Linked DNA regions of Homo sapiens. The protein of the gene in region 1 interacts with the protein of each later gene in a pairwise test. Each region holds a gene or a part of one and is shown in the gene's direction. Other genes may lie near its edges. The genes, in order: ZNF329 and TRIM37.

Region 1 (9,994 bases):
AAGTGACTTTCCTCCATTCTACTGCTTGTTTACCTCTCTCTTCACCCAACTTTTCATTTTGAAAAGTTCCGCATTTGCATAGAAGTTGCAGGAATAGTTTAACACTTCTAAAACCATCCAGATTCTAAAATTATTAACACTTTTTGCCACATTAGCTTTATCTTTATCTTCTCCCTGCCTGAGACACATGCATAGGTGTTACCAGAAAGGGGGTCCCGAGCTATAACCCAACAGAGGGTTCTTATATCTTGGGAAAGAAAATTCAGGGCGAGTCCATAGAGTAAAGTGAAAGCAAGCTTATTAAGAAAGTAAAGGAATAAAAAAATGGCTACTCCATAGATAGAGCAGCCCCAAGAACTGCTGGTCGCCCATTTTTATGGTTATTTCTTGATTATATGCTAAACAAGGGGTGGATTATTCATGCCTACCATTTTTAGGCCATATAGGGTAACTTCCTGATGTTTCCATGACATTTGTAAACTGTCATGGTGCTAGTGGGAGCAGGACCAGAGGTCACTCTCGTTGCCATCTTGGTTTTGGTGGGTTTTAGCCACCTTTACTGCAAGCTGTTTTATCAACAAGGTCTTTATGACCTGTATCTTGTGCAAATCTCCTGTGTTATCCTATGACCTAGAATGCCTTAACTGTCTGGAAATGCAGCCCAGTAGGTTTCAGCCTTATTTTACCCAGTCCCCATTTAAGATGGAGGTTTGCTTTGGTTCAAACGCCTCTGACATAGGGTTTTCTTTTTATATTTTACACACACTTGTACACACAGCAGGTGTTGCAGAGGCAGGTGTGATACAGACATATATTTACATACACTTAGTTTTTTTGGCTGAGTTACTGGAAGTATGTTATAGATATCATACCTCACTCTGAAATACTTCAGCCAGGATCTCATAAGAAAAGTAACGTTCTTATTTTTTAATTTTGTATTTTTTATAGAGATGAGATCTCACTATGTTGCCCAGACTGTTCTTGAACTCCTGGTCTTAAGCAGTCCTCCTGCCTTGGCCTCCCAAAGTGGTGGGATTACAGGTGTGAGCCACCACACCCAGCCAAAAAGAACATTTGAACATTTAAACAAAACTAGTGTTATTATCACACCCAAGTATACTTTTTTTTTTTCAAAAAACTAATTGTTTTTTATTTGTAATTTTTTTTTCCTGCCAATCTGAACCTGGAAAAGAAGAAACAGGGAAATTTTTTACCTTCCTCTCTTTTTTTTTTTTTTTTTTTAATTGATCATTCTTGGGTGTTTCTCGCAGAGGGGGATTTGGCAGGGTCATAGGACAATAGTGGAGGGGAGGTCAGCAGATAAATAAGTGAACAAAGGTCTCTGGTTTTCCTAGGCAGAGGACCCTGCGGCCTTCCGCGCAGTGTTTGTGTCCCTGGGTACTTGAGATTAGGGAGTGGTGATGACTCTTAAGGAGCATGCTGCCTTCAAGCATCTGTTTAACAAAGCACATCTTGCACCGCCCTTAATCCATTTAACCCTGAGTGGACACAGCACATGTTTCAGAGAGCACAGGGTTGGGGGTAAGGTCACAGATCAACAGGATCCCAAGGCAGAAGAATTTTTCTTAGTACAGAACAAAATGAAAAGTCTCCCATGTCTACTTTCTGCACAGACACGGCAACCATCCGATTTCTCAATCTTTTCCCCACCTTTCCCCCCTTTCTATTCCACAAAACCGCCATTGTCATCATGGCCCGTTCTCATTGAGCTGTTGGGTACACCTCCCAGACGGGGTGGTGGCTGGGCATAGGGGCTCCTCACTTCCCAGTAGGGGCGGCTGGGCAGAGGCGCCCCTCACCTCCCGGACGGGGCGGCTGGCCGGGTGGGGGGGCTGACCCCCCCCACCTCCCTCCCGGACGGGGCGGCTGGCCGGGCAGAGGGTCTCCTCACTTCCCAGTGGGGCAGCCGGGCAGAGGCGCCCCTCATCTCCCAGACAGGGCGGCTGGCCGGGCGGGGGGCTGGCCCCCCACCTCCCTCCTGGACGGGGCGTCTGGCCAGGCGGAGGGCTGACCCCCCCACCTCCCTCCCGGACGGGGCGGCTGGCCGGGCGGGGGGCTGACCCCCCCACCTCCCTCCCGGGCGGGGCGGCTGGCCGGGCAGAGGGGCTCCTCACTTCCCAGTAGGGGCGGCTGGGCAGAGGCGCCCCTCACCTCCCGGACGGGGCGGCTGGCCGGGCGGGGGGCTGGCCCCCCACCTCCCTCCTGGACGGGGTGGCTGCCAGGCGGAGACGCTCCTCACTTCCCAGACGGGGTGGCTGCCGGGCGGAGGGGCTCCTCACTTCTCAGACGGGGCGGCTGCCTGGCGGAGGGGCTCCTCACTTCTCAGACGGGGCGGTTGCCAGGCGGAGGGTCTCCTCACTTCTCAGACGGGGCGGCTGGGCAGAGACGCTCCTCACCTCCCAGACGGGGTCGCGGCCGGGCAGAGGCGCTCCTCACATCCCAGATGGGGCGGCGGGGCAGAGGCGCTCCCCACATCTCAGACGATGGGCGGCCGGGCAGAGACGCTCCTCACTTCCTAGATGGGATGGCGGCCGGGCAGAGACGCTCCTCACTTTCCAGACTGGGCAGCCAGGCAGAGGGGCTCCTCACGTCCCAGATGATGGGCGGCCAGGCAGAGATGCTCCTCACTTCCCAGACAGGGTGGCGGCCGGGCAGAGGCTGCACTCTCGGCACTTTGGGAGGCCAAGGCAGGTGGCTGGGAGGTGGAGGTTGTAGCAAGCCAAGATCACGCCACTGCACTCCAGCCTGGGCACCATTGAGCACTGAGTGAACCAGACTCCGTCTGCAATCCCGGCACCTCGGGAGGCCGAGGCTGGCGGATCACTCGTGGTTAGGAGCTGGAGACCAGCCTGGCCAACACAGCGAAACCCCGTCTCCACCAAAAAAATACGAAAACCAGTCAGGCGTGGCGGCGCGTGCCTGCAATTGCAGGCACTCGGCAGGCTGAGGCGGGAGAATCAGGCAGGGAGGTTGCAGTGAGCCGAGATGGCAGCAGTACCGTCCAGCTTCGGCTCGGCATCAGAGGGAGACCGTGGAAAGAGAGGGAGAGGGAGACCGTGGGGAGAGGGAGAGGGGGAGGGGGAGAGGGAGAGGGACTACCTTCCTCTCTTGACCAGGTACCACCTACTTTTTTTTTTTAAAGATGGAATCTTACTCCGTCACCCAGGGTAGAGTGCAGTGGAGCGATCTCGGCTCACTGCAACCTCTACTTCCCAGGCTCAAGTGGTTTTCCTGCCTCAGCCTCCCAAGTAGCTGGAATTACAGGTGTGTGCCACTATGCCCAGCTAATATTTGTATTTTTAGTAGAGACGGGGTTCCGCCATGTTGGCCAGGCTGGTCTTGAACTCCTGACTTCAAGTGATCTGCCCACCTTGGCCTCCTACAGTGCTGGGATTACAGGTGTGAGCCACTGCGCCTGGCCCCAGATACTTTATTATTGATACAGAATTCCTGTCTGATATAGTTTGTATGCAGCTGATACAGTTTGTATGGTTTTTGGGTATTTGTTTTGATCCAGGATCCAATCCAGGATCCTGTGTTACATTGACTTGTCATGTTATTTTAGTCTTCCTCAACCTTGAATGGCACTCTCCTTTCTTTTTTTTTTTTTTTCATGAAATTGATATATTTTTAAAAGACCCAGCTGGTGGTTGTGTAGATTGTCACTTGATGTTCAGTTGACATTCCCAATATTAAATTCAGACTCTCGTCTTTGGCAGGGCATTGTCTAAGTGACATCATGTTCTTCTTGGTGTGTCGTGTCAGGAAGCATGTGAGGCTGGTGGTGATCAGGTTTTTGTCATGTGGTTAAAGTGCTCTCTGCCAGGATCCTCCGCTTTTTCCCCTCTGTAATTGATAAGCCATTCTAGAGATGGTACTTTGAATGTTCTTTTAATCTTATGTTCATGGTGTATTACTCATTTTGATATAGTAAGATGTTTCAAATCTTTTTCTTTATGTTTTGTGCCTTTTGTGAGTTGAGAAATTCTTTGGCTTGGCGCAGTGGCTCGCGCCTATAATCCCAGCACCTTGGGAAGCTGAGGCGGGTAGATCACTTGAGGTCAGGAGTTCAACACCAGCCTGGCCGACATGGTGAAACCCCATCTCTACTAAAAATATAAAAATTAGCTGGGTATGGTGGTGGGCACATGTAATCCAAGCTACTCAGGCAGCTGAGGCAGGAGAATCACTTAAACCCAGGAGGCGGAGGTTGCAGTGAGCTGAGATCATGCCACTACACTCCAGCCTGGGTGACAGAGTGAGGCACTGTCTCCAAAAAAAAAAAAAAAAAAAAAAAAGGAAGAAAAAAGAAATTTTTTTTGGCTTGATGTAGTGGTGGCTCACGCCTTAATCCCAGCACTTTGGGAATCTGAGGCTGGAGGATCACTTGAGCTCAGGAGTTTGAAACCAGCCTGGGCAACACAGTGAGACCCAATCTCTACAAAACATTTAAAAAAAAAAAATGGCCAGGCGCGGTGGCTCACGCCTGTAATTCCAGCACTTTGGGAGGCCGAGGCGGGCGGGTCACGAGGTCAGGAGATCGAGACCATCTTGGCTAACATGGTGAAACCCCGTCTGTACTAAAAATACAAAAAATTAGCCAGGCATGGTGGCAGGCACCTGAAGTCCCAGCTACTCGGGAGGCTGAGGCAGGAGAATGGCGTGAACCCGGGAGGCAGAGCTTGCAGTGAGCAGAGATCGCACCACTGCACTCCAGCCTGGGTGACAGATCAAAACTCTGTATCAAAAAAAAAAAAAAAAAGAAAAAAAATTATCCAGGTGTGATGGCATACTCCTATGGTCATGGCTCCTGAGCCCAGGCATTCAAGATTACAGTGAGCCATGATCATACTACTGCATTCAAGCCTGAGCATCAAAGCAAGACTCTGTCTCTTTAAAAAAAAAAAAAAAAAAAAAAATTCTTGGCTGGGCGCCATGGCTCATGCCTGTAATCCTAGCATTTTGGGAGGTCGAGGCAGGCAGATCACCTGAGGTCAGGAGTTCAAGATCAGCCTGGCCGACTTGGTGAAACCCCATCTCTATTAAAAATATAAACAATTAGCCGAGTGTGGTGACGCGTGCCTGTAATCCCAACTACTCGGGAGGCTGAGGCACGAGAGTCACTTGAACCCAGGAAGCGGAGGTTGCAGTGAGCCGAGATCGCGCCACTGCACTCCAGCCCAGCTACAGAGCGAGACTCCGTCTCAAAAAAAAAATATATATATATATATAGATAGATAGATAGATAGATAGATAGATATAGATGTAAAATTAGCTGCGTGTGGTGGCAGGTACCTGTAGTCCTGGCTACTCAGGAGGCTGAGGCAAGAGAATTGCTTGAACCCAGGAGGCGGAGGTTGCAGTGAGTTGAGATCACGCCACTGCACTCCAGCCTGGGCAACAGAGCAAGACTCCATCTGAAAAATAAAAAAATAAAAAATAACAACAACAAAAAAACCCACAATTTTTTTCTACTCTGATAACTCAAAGATATTCTTGTAGTTCTATATTTATTTATTTATTTATTTTTTGAGACTGAGTCTCGCTGTTGTTGCCCGGGCTGGAGTGAAATGGTGCAATCTCGGCTCACTGCAACCTCTGCCTCCCGGGTTCCAGCAATTCTTCTCCCTCAGCCTCCCGAGTAGCTGAGATTACGGGCGCCTGCCACCACGCCTGGCTAATTTTTGTATTTCTAGTAGAGACAGGGTTTCACTATGTTGGCCAGGCTGGTCTCGAACTCCTGACCTCGGGTGATCCACTTGCCTCGGCCTCCCAAAGTCCTGGGATTATAAGTGTGAGCCACTGCGCCCAGCCTAGTTCTATTATTTCTAATCATTCAAAAAAATTTTTTCTCACATACTATTTAGGTCTTATAAGCCTGTGTGTGAGCGTGAGTGAATTTGGAATTGTAATTATTTTTCCATCTGAAAAGACAGCACGAGATATACTTACTTTTGCTAATGTGTGAGGCCACCTTTATCACCTTTTAAATTATTAAATGCCTCCAAGTCTGTTTGGGGCTCTGTCCTTCCTGTACCTTCACTGGGTTGCTTGCTTACTGGAACTTTAAGGAGGAGCCTTGACTTTGGCAAAACAACTACTCCTAGCTCTTTTTCCTCTCTTCTTTTTGTTTTTTAAGGAGTTGTCATGGATATTTCAGGAAGCTGTCTTCTTCAGTGTGAATTTTGTCACGCATCAGTAAAATTATTCCAGAGATTTGCTTGGAAGGCATTGCTTTTACAGGTCTAGTGAGAGTTGTCCTGGTTTCAGTACCCAGCCCTTTCATCTGTGTACCTGGTCTAGCTCCTCTCTTACTCAAATGCCCTCTCAGGTCTTGAGTAAACTTTTTCAAGTTTTCACCACAAAGATACTATATAATTTTTGTTAATTTTTGTTTTCTTTTTTTTGAGATAGGGTCTTGCTGTCTCACCCAGGCTGGAGTGCAGTGGCACGATCACAGCTCACTGCAGCCTTGAGCTCCTGGGCTACCAAGTAGCTGGGACTTCAGGTATGCACCATCACGCCTGGCTAAAGGCATTTCACTACATTGTCTAAGCTGGCCTTGAACTCCTAGGCTCAAGTGATCCTCCTGCCTCAACCTCCCAAAGTGCTGGTATTACAGGTGTTATCCAGTGCACCCGGCTGTGGCTGGGCTTTCACTGTGATTAGGTAATGGGGTTGGGGTTGGGGCTTGCATAGTTTGAACTTCCTGCTGGCACCAAGGAGGAAACTCCCAGACTTTCTTGTTGGCTTGCCCAGATGAGAGGGAGAAGGAGAAAGGGGTTGGGGCTTGAAAGCTGTCAGCAACCATCCAAAATGGAGTCAGACTCTTTATCACACTTGTAATCACATGGCTGACTTTGTCAGGATGGGATTAAAGTTGGTAAATGATTTATTTTTGTTAATGAGTTGTGAACAAGTAAAGTAAACATTATTATGGGTGTCCCACAGAGATGGCTGGAGCCGTGTGGATGGGCATAAATGGCTAATGTCCAGCAACCATCGATGTCAAGTATCCACACACCTGGCCTGAATGGATCCCTCTGCCTTTCAGAGGTGAGTACCAGGGAATGGAAGTCTACATGAGCTCAGCACATCCCTGCAAGGACTGTTATTTCCTTTATAAAGTCCTAAAATACCAGAAATGTGGCAGATGGGGTCTAGACTAGTGGTTCTGACCCTTACAGACTCGACACATACTTACTCTTTTAAACAGCTTTATTGAGATATAATTCACATAGCATACAATTTACCCTTTTAAGTGTACAATTCATTGTTTTTTATTATATTAACTAGCTTGTATATCCATTGCCACAGTCAATCTTCGAATGTTTTCATCACCCCTGAAAAAGAAAACCCATACCATTAGCAGTCACTCCCCCATCTTTCCCAGCCCTAGGTAATCTCTAATCTACTTTCTGTCTTATAGATTTGCCTGTTATGGACATTTCATATAAATAGCCTGCAGTATGTGGTCTTTTGTATGTGGCTTGTTAGACTTAGGAAAATGTTTCATGTTATAGCATGGGTCTTTTTTTATTTTATTTTATTTTTGAGATGTAGTCTTGCTCTGTCACCCGAGCTGGAGTACAGTGGCACGATCAGGGCTCACTGCAAACTGCTTCCCAGGTTCAAGCAATTCTCCTGCCTCAGCCTCCCTAGTAGCTGGGATTACAGGCGAGGGCCACCATACCCGGCTAATTTGTTTTTTTTTTTTTTGAGATGGAGGTTCGCTCTTGTTGCCCAGGCTGGAGTGCAATGGCATGATCTCGGCTCACTGCAACCTCCGCCTCTTGGGTTCAAGCGATTCTCCTGCCTCAGTCTTCCGAGTAGCTGGGACTACAGGTGCATGCCACCATGCCTGGCTAATTTTTTGTATTTTTAGTAGAGATGGGGTTTCACCGTGTTACCCAGGCTGGTCTTGAATTCCTGAGCTCAAATGATCCACCTGCCTCAGCCACCCAAAGTGCTGGGATTACAGGCATGAACCACTGCACCTGGCCAAGAGCATTAGGCCAGGCCGGGCACAGTGGCTTATGCCTGTAATCGCAGCACTTTGGGAGGCCAAGGCAGGCTGATCACCTTAGGTCAGGAGTTCAAGACTAGCCTCACCAACATGGAGAAACCCCGTCTCTACTGAAAATACAAAAATTAGGCATGGTGGCACATGCCTGTAATCCCAGGTACTCGGGAGACTGAGTCAGGAGAATCACTTGAACCCGGGAGGAGGAGGTTGCAGTGAGCTGAGATCGCTCCACTGCACTTCAGTCTGGGCAACACAGCGAGACTCTGTCTCAGAAAAAAAAAAAGAGTGTTAAGCCAGGCGTGGTGGCTCACAACTGTAATCCCAGCACTTTGGAAGGCTGAGGTGGGAGGATTGCTTGAGCCCAGGAGTTCAAGACCAGCCTGGCCCATATAGTGAGACCTCATCTCTACCAAAAAAAAAAGAAAAATTTAGGCTGGGTGTGGTGGCTCACGTCTGTAATCCCAGCACTTTGCGAGGCTGAGACATGCAGATCCCTTGAGGTTAGGAGTTTAGGACCAGCCTGGCCAACATGGTGAAACCCTGTCTACTAAAAATAGAAAAATTAGCCAGGCATGGGGGCATGTGCCACTTAAGAGGCCAAGGCAAGAGAATCGCTTGAGCACAGGAGGTGGAGGTTGCAGTGAGCTGAGATCATGCCACTGTACTCCAGCCTGAGACAGAGTGAGATTCTAACTCAAAAAAAAAAAAAAAATTATGTGTGATGGTGTGCAACTGTGGTCCCAGCTACTCAGGAAGCTGAGGTGGGAGGATCACTTGAGCCCAGGAGATTGAGGCTGTGTTGAGCCTTGATTGCACCTTGCAGTCTAGGCTGGACAAGAGAGTGAGACCCTGTCTCTTAAGAAAGAAAAAAAGGGCTGGGCGCGGTGGTCACGCCTGTAATCCCAGCGCTTTGGGAGGCCGGGGTGGGCGGATCACGAGGTCAGGAGATCGAGACCATCCTGGCCAACATGGTGAAACCCCATCTCTACTAAAAAATGTACAAAAAATCAGCTGGGTGTGGTGGCGGGCACCTGTAGTCCCAGCTACTCGGGAGGCTGAGGCAGGAGAATGGCGTGAACCCGGGAGACGGAGCTTGCAGTGAGCCGAGATCACGCCACTGCACACCAGCCTTAGCAAAAGAGCAAGACTCTGTCTCAAAAAAAAAAAAAAAAGAAAGAGTTTTATAGTTGTAGCTTTTATGTTTAGGCTGATCCATTTTGAGTAAATTTTTATGTAATGTGCACGGTTTATAATCTGTTTTGCAGTGTACTCTAAATTTACTGGTAATATTAAATATCCATATAATTCTTTAAATTCTAAAGCCCTAAGTCTATGTAAAGAATCAATACAATTCTGGGGGCACTAATTCATTTCCCCCAGAACCGATCCAGTCTCATGAGAGCAAGAACTCACTACTGTGAGAACAGCACCAAGCCATTCATGCGGGTTCCACCTCCATGACCCAAACCCCTCCTGGTAGGCTGCATGCCCCAGCACCACCACAGTAGGGATTAAATTTCAGCATGAGATTTGGTGTGGACAAACCATATCCAAACCGTAGCAGTGGAATAGCTGGATCATATGACAGCTCCATATTTTCCTTTTTGAGAATCATCAGACTGGTTTCCAAATTAGCTACACTGTTTTATATTTGCACCGGCAGTGAAAAGTTTCCAGTTTTTCCATATCCTTGCCAATACTTGTTATTGTTTTTGTTTGTTTTTAAATATTGAACATACTAGTGAGTGTAAAGTGGCATCTCACTGTGGTTTTGATCAGCATTTCCCGAATACCTAATGATATTGATCATCATTTCATGTGCTCATTGGCCATTTGTATGACTTCTTTGGGGAAATATCTATTCAGAACTCCTATGGGGTGAATGTAGTGTCCCCTCAAAATTTGTATGTTGATGCCTTATCCCCACTGTGATGGTATTTGGAGATG
Region 2 (9,994 bases), on another chromosome or scaffold:
ACTTCTAGTGACCTCACCATTTGGAAATCTAAGAATAGTGAGGGATAAAGTGCTGATTTTTTTCACTTCACAGTGCATATTATATTTGAGTGACTGGTTTTACAACTTAATTTTATAAAGCAACTATCAGTTCTTTGTCAATAACAGCAAATTAAAAGTAGAAGAGTCAAGATGAAAGTTGACGAAAACCAGCAATTTTCTACTTTTTTCTTAAACTTTTATTTTAGGTTCAGGGGTACATGTGTAGGTTTGTTATACAGGTAAACTCACATCATGGTGATTTGGTGTACGGATTATTTCATCACCCAGATACTAAGCCTAGTACCCAATAGTTATTTTTTCTTATCCTCTCCCTCCTCCCACCCTCCACCCTCAAGTAGGCCCCAGTGTCTGTTGTTGTTACCCCTCGTTATATCCTTGAGTTCTCATCATTTAGCTTTTTTTTTTTTTTTTTTTTTTTTGAGATGGAGTCTCCCTCTGTCGCCCAGAGGCGACATATCGGCTCACTGCAAGCTCTGCCTCCCGGGTTCACACCATTCTCCTGCCTCAGCCTCCCAAGTAGCTGGGACTACAGGTGCCTGCCACTGCATCTGGCTAATTTTGTTTTTGTATTTTTAGTAGAGATGGGGTTCCACCGTGTTAGCCAGGATGGTCTCGATCTCCTGACCTCTTGAGCCTCCTGCCTCAGCCTCCAAAGTGCTGGGATTACAGGCCTGAGCCACTGCGCCCGGCCCATTTAGCTCTTAAATAATAAGTGAGAACATGTGGTATTTGCGAAAACCATCAATTTTTTTTTTTTTTTTTTTTTTTTTTTGAGACAGAGTTTCTAGTTGCCCAGGCTGGAGCGCAATGGCGCGATCTTGGCTCCCTGCAACCTTTGCCTCCCAGGTTCAAGCGATTCTCCTGCCTCAGCCTCCCGAGTAGATGGGATTGCAGGCACGCGCCACCATGCCTGGCTAATTTTGTACTTTTAGTAGAGATGGGGTTTCTCCGTGTTGATCAGGCTGGTTTCTAACTCCCGACCTCAGGTGATCCACCCACTTCGGCCTCCCATAGTGCTGGGATTATAGGCATGAGCCACCACGTCTGGCCAAAACCATCAATTTTTATTGTTGATTGTTGGTGTAGTATTTACAAGAAAGGATAGAACGTAAATACTGACTCAAACAACAGCCCTATTTAGCCAGGTGTGGTGGCTCACGCCTGTAATCCCAGCACTTTGGGAGGCTGAGGCAGGCAGATCACTTGGGCTCAGGAGTTTGAGAGCAGCCTGGCCAATATGGTGAAATCCTATCTCTACTAAAAATACAAAAATTAGCCGGGCTGTGGTGGCACGCGCCTGTAATCCCAGCTACTCAGGAGGCCAAGGCAGGAGAATCGCTTGAATCCGGCAGGTGGAGGTTGCAGTGAACCGAGATTATGCCACTGCACCCCAGCCTGGGCGACATAGCAAGACCCTATCTCAAAAATAATAATAAAGTAAATAAAAACAACAGCCCTGTTTAACGTGGGGTAGTCTTTACAGGTCAGAAGTTTTTGGGCATTGGCTGGGTGCCGTGGCTCACGCCTGTAATCCCAGCACTTTGGGAGGCTGAGGTGGGTGGATCACCTGAGGTCAGGAGTTCAAGATCAGCCTGGGCAACATGGTGAAACCCTGTCTCTACTAAAAATACAAAAATTAGCTGGGCATGGTGGCAGGCACTTGTAATCCCAGCTACTTGGGAAGCTGAGGCAGTTGAATCGCTTGAGTCCGGGAGGCAGATGTTGCAGTGAGCCGAGATTTCACCAGTGCACTCCAGCCTGGGCGACAAGAGTGAAACTCCATCTTAAAAAAACAAAAAACAAACAAAAAAAGGTTTTTGGGTATCATTACATGATGTTATAATTTGATGATCAAAATAAGAACTTGAATATTTAAAAAAGATTAAAATATGTTCTGAACTGAGAAGTTTCAGAGTATTTAACAGTTTAAAAAGTTCTCATCACAACAATTTTAAACATTTTTTTCTTGAGAGTGATTTAATGTACTCCTGAATTTCCCTTATTCGGAGCTCTTTGTTCTTGAGCATACTGGACAGATGAGTTGCTATCATATCAGCATTTACTCTTATGTGTTTTCCGTAGCTTTTCTGGAAGTATAAAGAAGTTTAACAAGGGATATGATTTTCAGTGTAGGGAAAAAGATATGTTTTTGTTATTGTTTTGTTTTGTTTAGAGTCAGTGTCTTGCTATATTGCCCAGTCTAGTCTAGAATTCTCGGGCTCAAGTGATCCTCCTGTCTCAACTTCCCAAGTAGGTAGGATTACAGGTGCATGCCACGGTGCCTGGAATCATGTTTTTTGAGGGGAGGGATTATTTTAGTTTTCTTCGTATAGCTTTTCAGACTTTTGGGGTTTAACTATTCACCAAGAGAAATAATTTATTGCTATTTCATGCTTCAGCCATAGAGAGAATTACAAAATTATTCAAACATCAATTTTACCAACCTATAAAAGACCCATTTTCTTATAGCCTTGATTTCATCCTTATTAGCGTTACTTATTAGTACAGAAACAAATTCCTGTTATGACATCATTTTTTTTAAGCAACATTGAGTCTATACCATATGCCTGACACTGAGTTGCTAATAAGAAAAATATAGACATGGTTTTTGTCCACAGGGAACTCAAGATGAAATTGGCAGATAAAAACAGAATTTACTACTCTCTTATTATAAAATAATGCTATAGTAGCACCGTAAGTAAATTGCTATGAAGTTTGTGGATAGGGGGCTTCACATTATCCTATTAATGAGACATTGCTCAAACTTTAAACCTTTTATTTCAAGATTCTGGTGGAATTTTGTATGTATTTATTAGAAAGTTATTTAAGGCTTTTCTATAACTATGAATGTATGTTTCATTCTTTCATTAAAACAGAAAGTTAAGAAATTTTACCTGCTGCTTGGTTTTGTTTTAATGGCAAAATATTAGAACTAATGTGCAGAGTTAACCAGTGGTTTAAATCATTCAAAGAAAATAATAGTGTTTAGACGGTCTTACTTTAATGTCTTACCAGTGGGTACTTCCTAGACTGTGAATCGTCTCTGCTCAGTTGAGTGAATCATCTCTACTCAGTTCCGTTCAGAACGTAATTTAATCTCTTGATTTGATTTGATTTGATTTGATTTGATTTGATTTGATTTGATTTTTTGAGACAGAGTTTCGCTCTGTTGCCCAGGCTGGAGTGCAGTGGTGCGATCTCGGCTCACTGCCACCTTTGCCTCCCAGATTCAAGCGATTCTCCTGCCTCAGCCTCCTGAGTAGCTGGGATTACAGGCGCCCGCCACCATACCCGGCTAATTTTTGTACTTTTAGTAGAGACGGGGTTTCACCATGTTGGCCACGCTGGTCTCGAACTCCTGACCTTAGGTGATCTGCCCACCTCGGCCTCCCAAAGTGCTAAGATTACAGGTGTGAGCCACTGTGCCCGGCCAATCTCTCTCTTTTTTTAATACTCAAGTTCTCATTTTGATCATCCAGTTATAACATATAATGATGCCCAAAAACTTCTGACCTATAAAGACTATCCCAACATTAAATAGGACTGTTGTTTTATAGTCAGTGTTTATGTTCTGTCCTTTCTTGCATTAGTATTCTTCACTAAAACTAGATATCTACTGCCAGATAACTGTTAAATGGTCAGTAGGTTCTTACAATAAGGTGTAAAATCCTAGAAAAAAATGAACAGCTAACATTGTGTAGCCGGGTAAAAGGGCTGGAAGGAATGAGAGAGATGTAGATGTCCAAATTAGTCTTGCCTTGTGGTTTTTCCTTTCTTCAAAAACACCTTCACACATGCACTGCAATTTTTTCACCTTAAATATAGTCACGTTAGGCTATGTAACAAAGGTAGAGGTTTGTTTGCTTTAGTAATAGTTTTTTTTTTTTTTTTAATTAAAACAACTCTGGATAGATTAAGATTCTGTCATTTATATATTAATACGATTTTATGTAGGTGCAGTACTTTTTTTCCTAACCTAAGCTGAAATAATGCCATATTGTAATAAGGGCAGTTTTGATTGCTATCTTGAAGGGTTCAGGATATAGTTTATTTAGAGCATGTAACTCCTTGGGGGATAGTAAAGCAATCCTGGGTGGTTGAGCCAGGAAGTGATTTTTTTTCTGAGGGGCAGGAAATACGGGAACGTGAGATGGAATAGAGAAATATAAAGAGCAGCACTTAAAACTTTGTATTTTGCTACAAAAAATTAGCCGGGCGTAGTGGCGGGCGCCTGTAGTCCCAGCTACTTGGGAGGCTGAGGCAGGAGAATGGCGTGAACCCGGGAGGTGGAGCTTGCAGTGAGCCGAGATCCCGCCACTGCACTCCAGCCTGGGCGACAGAGCGAGACTCCGTCTCAAAAAAAAAAAAAACTTTGTATTTTGCTGGGGCCTCATTTAGGGAAGAAAGGGATAAGAGTTATCTTCCTCCTTATAGGAGGAAACTGCATAGTATATGGCTCTCTTCTTCCCAACTCATGATCATCATTGTATTTTAGTTACATTATTATAATAAATATGCCTGAGTAGGTTAGTTTGGGAAGCTTAACTACAATGTACAATGTTATTTCTTTAGAAAGGTAGTTTGAGGACAACTGGCTTTTCAGAACCTTGTGTCATAATCTGTGGACTACATCTATAAACAACAAATACTAGCAGCTCTAAGTTTATGTGAATTTTGGCCTTATAATCAAGTTAACCCAAATTGCAGAATTCAGTGCTAGACTGATAATGTTTTACTATTTGAATTTTTTTTTTAATGTGGCACAATTCTTTTAAGGTTTCAGGTACGTTCACCAACTTTCTTTCAAAAATCCCGGGACCAGCATTGGTACATTACTCAGTTGGAAGCTGCACAGACTAGTTATATCCAACAAATAAACAACCTTAAAGAGGTAAGAAAATATCTATTTCTGTTTTGGTGTTTCCTATTGTCCTTTTGGCTTGTTATATTTGTAATTAGATTTTATATATTTTATTGCTATTTGTAATTTTGTAATTTGTAATTAGAAAAAAAATCTAGTTATCTTGTTCCCCATCCTTACCAGTTCTGCAGTGTCCAGTTTAGTAGACACTAGCCACATACGGCCATGTAAATTTTTATTTTACTTTATTTATTTATTTTTTTTGAGAAGGAGTCTCGCTCTGTTGCCCAGGCTGGAGTGCAGTGGTGCAATCTCGGCTCACTGCAAGCTCCGCCTCCTGGGTTCACGCCATTCTCCTGCCTCAGCCTCCTGAGTAGCTGGGACTACAGGCGCCTGCCACCACACCGGGCTAATTTTTTTGTATTTTTAGTAGAGACAGGGTTTCACAGTGTTAGCCAGGATGGTCTCGATGTCCTGACCTCGTGATCTGCCCACCTCGGCCTCCCAAAGTGCTGGGATTACAGGCATGAGCCACCACGCCCTGCCACTTTATTTTTATTTTTTTTTATTTTGGAGACAGGTCGGACTCACTCTTGTTGCCAGGCACAATTTCCACTAACTGCAGCTTCAACTTCCCAAGCTCGGGTGATCTTCCCACCTTAGCCTCCCAGGTAGCTGGGACTACGAGCATGTGTCATGGCTAGTTTTTGTTTTTGTGGAGATGGGTTTCTCCATGTTGCCCAAGCTGGTCTTGAACTCCTGGGCTCAAGCAGTCTGCCTGCCTTGGCCTCCCAAAGTGCTGGGATTACAGGTGTGAGCCACTGTGCCTGGTCTGTAAATTTAGCTTAATTAAAATTAAAAATTTAGTTCCTTAGTTGCAGTAGCCACATTTCAAGTGCTTGCATTGGTTACTGCAAATCTAGAGCATTTCCATCATTGCATAAAGTTGTTTTGAACAGTGTGGCTGTAGTTTGAGGTAAGCTGTTTGTGTTTCTGTCAGTGACTTAGTTTCTCTTCCACAAGTTATCTTGGATTTAGAGGATTCTAGGCTATAGCACAATTAAAAGTTGTCCCATCTTGAACTCTTACTATTGTTGAATGAGCACTGGGGAAGATTAATTGATGAATTTTTATTTTACAGTGGTAAACTAAGGAATGTTTCATTTCCCTTAGGAAGTTAGGGTGTGGCAGGAGGTTTGGAGTGCTGAGAGTCGTTAATAGGTCAGGGAGGAAAATGTGAATAAATACATGCTTTCAGAGATTTTCATGTTAAATGTGCTATTTAAAACTGCCTGTATTCACTATACTGTTTGCTAATTGTATGTTTAGCTTAGGCTGGATATGAAAGAAGGAGGATGAGCATAAATGGGGCAGTTTATCTTTGTCATCAATTTTTTTTTATAAATAAAAGGCAGTAGGGATTCAGAGAAATGGTTTAAGAAATGGTGCCAAGTGAGGTGGCTCATTCCTGTAATCCCAGCATGTTGGGAGGCCGAGGCCAGAGGAACATTTGAGCCCAGGGGTTCAAAACCAGCTTGAGCAACATAGCAAGATACCGTCTCTAAAAATAAATAAAAATGAAATTAGCCAAGCATGGTGGCACACACCTCCAGTCCCAGCCACTTGAGAGGCTGAGGCAGTAGGATCGTTTGAGCCCAGTAGTTCAAGGCTTGCAGTGAGCTATGATGGCACCACTGCACTTCAGCCTGGGCAACAGAGTGAGACCATTCTCAAAAAATAAATAAAGCAATGGTTTTAGAAACATCTGGATGCATTTTTTTTTCACTTGAGACATCTTTTACTGTGCCAGTGAGCTGTGGCTAATATTTGTGCTTTTCTTGTTTTAAAAGAGACTTACTATTGAGCTGTCTCGAACTCAGAAGTCAAGAGATTTGTCACCACCAGATAACCATCTTAGCCCCCAAAATGATGATGCTCTGGAGACACGAGCTAAGAAGTCTGCATGCTCTGACATGCTTCTCGAAGGTGGTCCTACTACAGCTTCTGTAAGAGAGGCCAAAGAGGATGAAGAAGATGAGGAGAAGATTCAGAATGAAGATTATCATGTAATAATGAGGCCAGTTTTAGATTTTTGTGTTTGATTAAAAAAAAACAGTAGCATCATGGCTTTTAACATATTATGTGCTAAAACAGTAGGCTAAAAATATTGTCCATTGATTTCCATTAGTAATGTATGTATGCCCTTATGTAAATGTTAATAAGTCAGAAGTTGTTGAATCAAAGCATTTCAAGGTTGTGAAAAAAACAATACATTGTATAAAACAAACCGTGATACACATTTTAAAACCTAAACTACCATACATTGTGGATTTTAAAAATGTGTTCTGGCCGGGTGCGGTGGCTCACACCTGTAATCCCAGCACTTTGGGAGGCCAAGGTGGGTGGATCACATGAGGTCAGGAGTTCGAGACTATCCTGGCCAACATGGCCAAACCCTGTCTCTACGAAAAATACAAAAATTAGCTGGGTGTGGTGGTGCTTGCCTGTAATCCCAGCTACTTGGGAGGCTGAGGTAGGAGAATCACTTGAACCTAGGAGGCGGAGGTTGCAGTGAGCCAAGATTGTGCCACTGCACTCCAGCCTGGGAGACAGAGCAAGACTCTGTCTCAAAGAAAAAGAAAAAAAAAAGGTGTTCTATTTTCATTCACTGAAACTAGTACATGCCTTATCATTACTTACGTAGGTAGACTGATTTAGGATTCGGTAGCTAGCCAGGTTCTATCCCAGCTAAACAACAGTCAGAATCCAGAATAAGAGTTCAAGAAGTAGTTGATATTTTTACATAAGAAGGGATGCATAGACAGTTGGTTTTTTTGTAGTAATTTTTAAGATGAGAGACTTCAGTTTTAAGTTAAAATGAAGGACCCAGTGGGTCGAGAGAATGCACAGATTAAGTGCTTTGATAAACTAGAGATAATAGGGTTTGGAATGGAGCAGTCAGGTGAAGCAGTTAACCTTTGATAAACTGAGTTAAAGGAAGGGTGGAGTTTGCAGGTAAGGCAGCTGAAAAGTTGGGGAAGTTTTTGCTTAATAGTGGGTATTTTTTTTCTGTGCAGATAGGTGACAGTGTTAATTAATGACCTTGATAATGGTAAAATTAGGTAGAATTGAGGAGTGATGGTTTGAAACGTTACTCTGTGAGGAAGCTGATGTGGAATATGTGAAGGATTCCAGTCACACTGAGGGCCCAGCTGAAGGCGGCACGCATAAGTTAGTAAAATGATATCAGTCAGTGTGGTTGTGTGATTTTTCTCTACAGGGCTCAGCAGCTGAGGCACAGGAGCAGAAAATAGATTTTTGAAAACTGTATTATTCTTTGGTGCTTGGTTTATGGGCTGGATGGGGTGATCAACTGAGTAGAAACATTTGGAATAGACGTCTTGTTTTCTTGGCATTGATCTAGCACGAGCTTTCAGATGGAGATCTGGATCTGGATCTTGTTTATGAGGATGAAGTAAATCAGCTCGATGGCAGCAGTTCCTCTGCTAGTTCCACAGCAACAAGTAATACAGAAGAAAATGATATTGATGAAGAAACTATGTGAGTTTCCCACTTTACTACTGTAAAGCATTTAAGTGGTAATTATTAGAAGCATATTAACTAACTCACACTTAAATGTAGGGATATTCAGCACTTTTTTGAAAGATTGAATCAATAGTCAGTTTTCTCTCTCTAATCTCTGGGCTCTTAGCCAATAATTTTTGTTTGTGTTTTAACTTTTAAATTTGAATTTTGAAATTATTTTATACTTAAGAAAAGTTCAGAATTTCATGTTTCCTTCACACAGATTCATTCCCTATGAATATTTTGCTTTATATTTCTCTGTATATAATTTTTTCTGAAACACTTGAGATCGAATATACTTCTCATTGTGTACTTTTCTAAAAACAAGGATATTCTTACATAACTATAGAATAGTTATCAAAATCTGGAAATTAACATTGATGTAATACTGTAACCTTCTAAAAATTTGCCAGTAATGTCCTTTGTCAGGATCATGTTGCATTTAATTGTTAAATCGATTTAGTTATCTTCAATCTGGGTTACTTTTTTTTTTTTCCTTTTTTTTTGAGACGGAGTCTCGCTCTGTCGCCCAGGCTGGAGTGCAGTGGCATGATCTCAGCTCACTGCAAGCTCCACCTTCCGGATTACGCCATTCTCCTGCCTCAGCCTCCCGAGCAGCTAGAACTACAGGCGCCCGCCACCTCGCCCAGCTAATTTTTTGTATTTTTAGTAGAGACGGGGTTTCACCGTGTTAGCCAGGTTGGTCTTGATCTCCTGACCTCATGATCCGTCCACCTCGGCCTCCCAAAGTGTTGGGATTACAGGCGTGAGCCACCGCACCTGGCCAATCTGGGTTACTTTTTTAAAAATTTGTTTTTCGGCTGGGCACGGTGGCTCACGCCTGTAATCCCAGCACTCTGGGAGGCTGAGGCGGGTGGATCACGAGGTCAGGAGATCCAGACCATCCTGGCTAACACGGTGAAACCCCGTCTCTACTAAAAATACAAAAAAGAAATTAGCCAGGTGTGGTGGCAGGCGCCTGTAGTCCCAGCTACTTGGTAGGCTGAGGCAGGAGAATGGGGTGAACCCGGGAGGCGGAGCTTGCAGTGAGCTAAGATCACGCCACGGCACTCCAGCCTGGGCGACAGTTGAGACTCTGTCTCAAAAAAAAAAAAAAACTGTTTTTCATGACTAATACTTTCTGAGAAATACAGAATAGTTTATTTTGTAGAAAGTCCCTCAGTTTGGATTAGTCTGAAGTTTCCTCATGATTAGATAGAGGTTACACACTTTTGGCAGGGATACTACGGAAATGATAATGTATCCTTTTCACTGCGTCATACAGAGTGGAGCATGATGTCAGTATGTCCCATTACTTGTGGTTAATTTTGATCACTTAGTTGAGGTAGCATCCGCCAGGTTTCTTCACTCCAAAATTTGTACTTTTTCCTTTATAATTAATAAGTATCTTATGTATGGGACTGTAAATATCCTATTTTTCATCCTACTTTTTCCTATGAATTTTGACACCCTTTGATGAGTGTTGCCTGAAAAAGGTTACTGTGT

Evidence for each region.
Region 2: the proteins of ZNF329 (region 1) and TRIM37 interact in binary tests that used the Homo sapiens proteins (3 or more experiments, as listed by UniProt).

Annotation. Positions count from the first base shown.
Region 1 is NC_000019.10:58,139,640-58,149,633, reverse strand, and holds part of ZNF329 (zinc finger protein 329), read left to right. Parts: intron 1-6,435; 5' UTR 6,436-6,529; intron 6,530-6,972; 5' UTR 6,973-7,054; coding exon of another isoform or gene 7,055-7,077; intron 7,078-9,994. UniProt on the Homo sapiens protein: May be involved in transcriptional regulation.
Region 2 is NC_000017.11:59,046,153-59,056,146, reverse strand, and holds part of TRIM37 (E3 ubiquitin-protein ligase TRIM37), read left to right. Parts: intron 1-4,818; coding exon 4,819-4,933; intron 4,934-6,753; coding exon 6,754-6,969; intron 6,970-8,327; coding exon 8,328-8,464; intron 8,465-9,994. UniProt on the Homo sapiens protein: E3 ubiquitin-protein ligase required to prevent centriole reduplication. Probably acts by ubiquitinating positive regulators of centriole reduplication.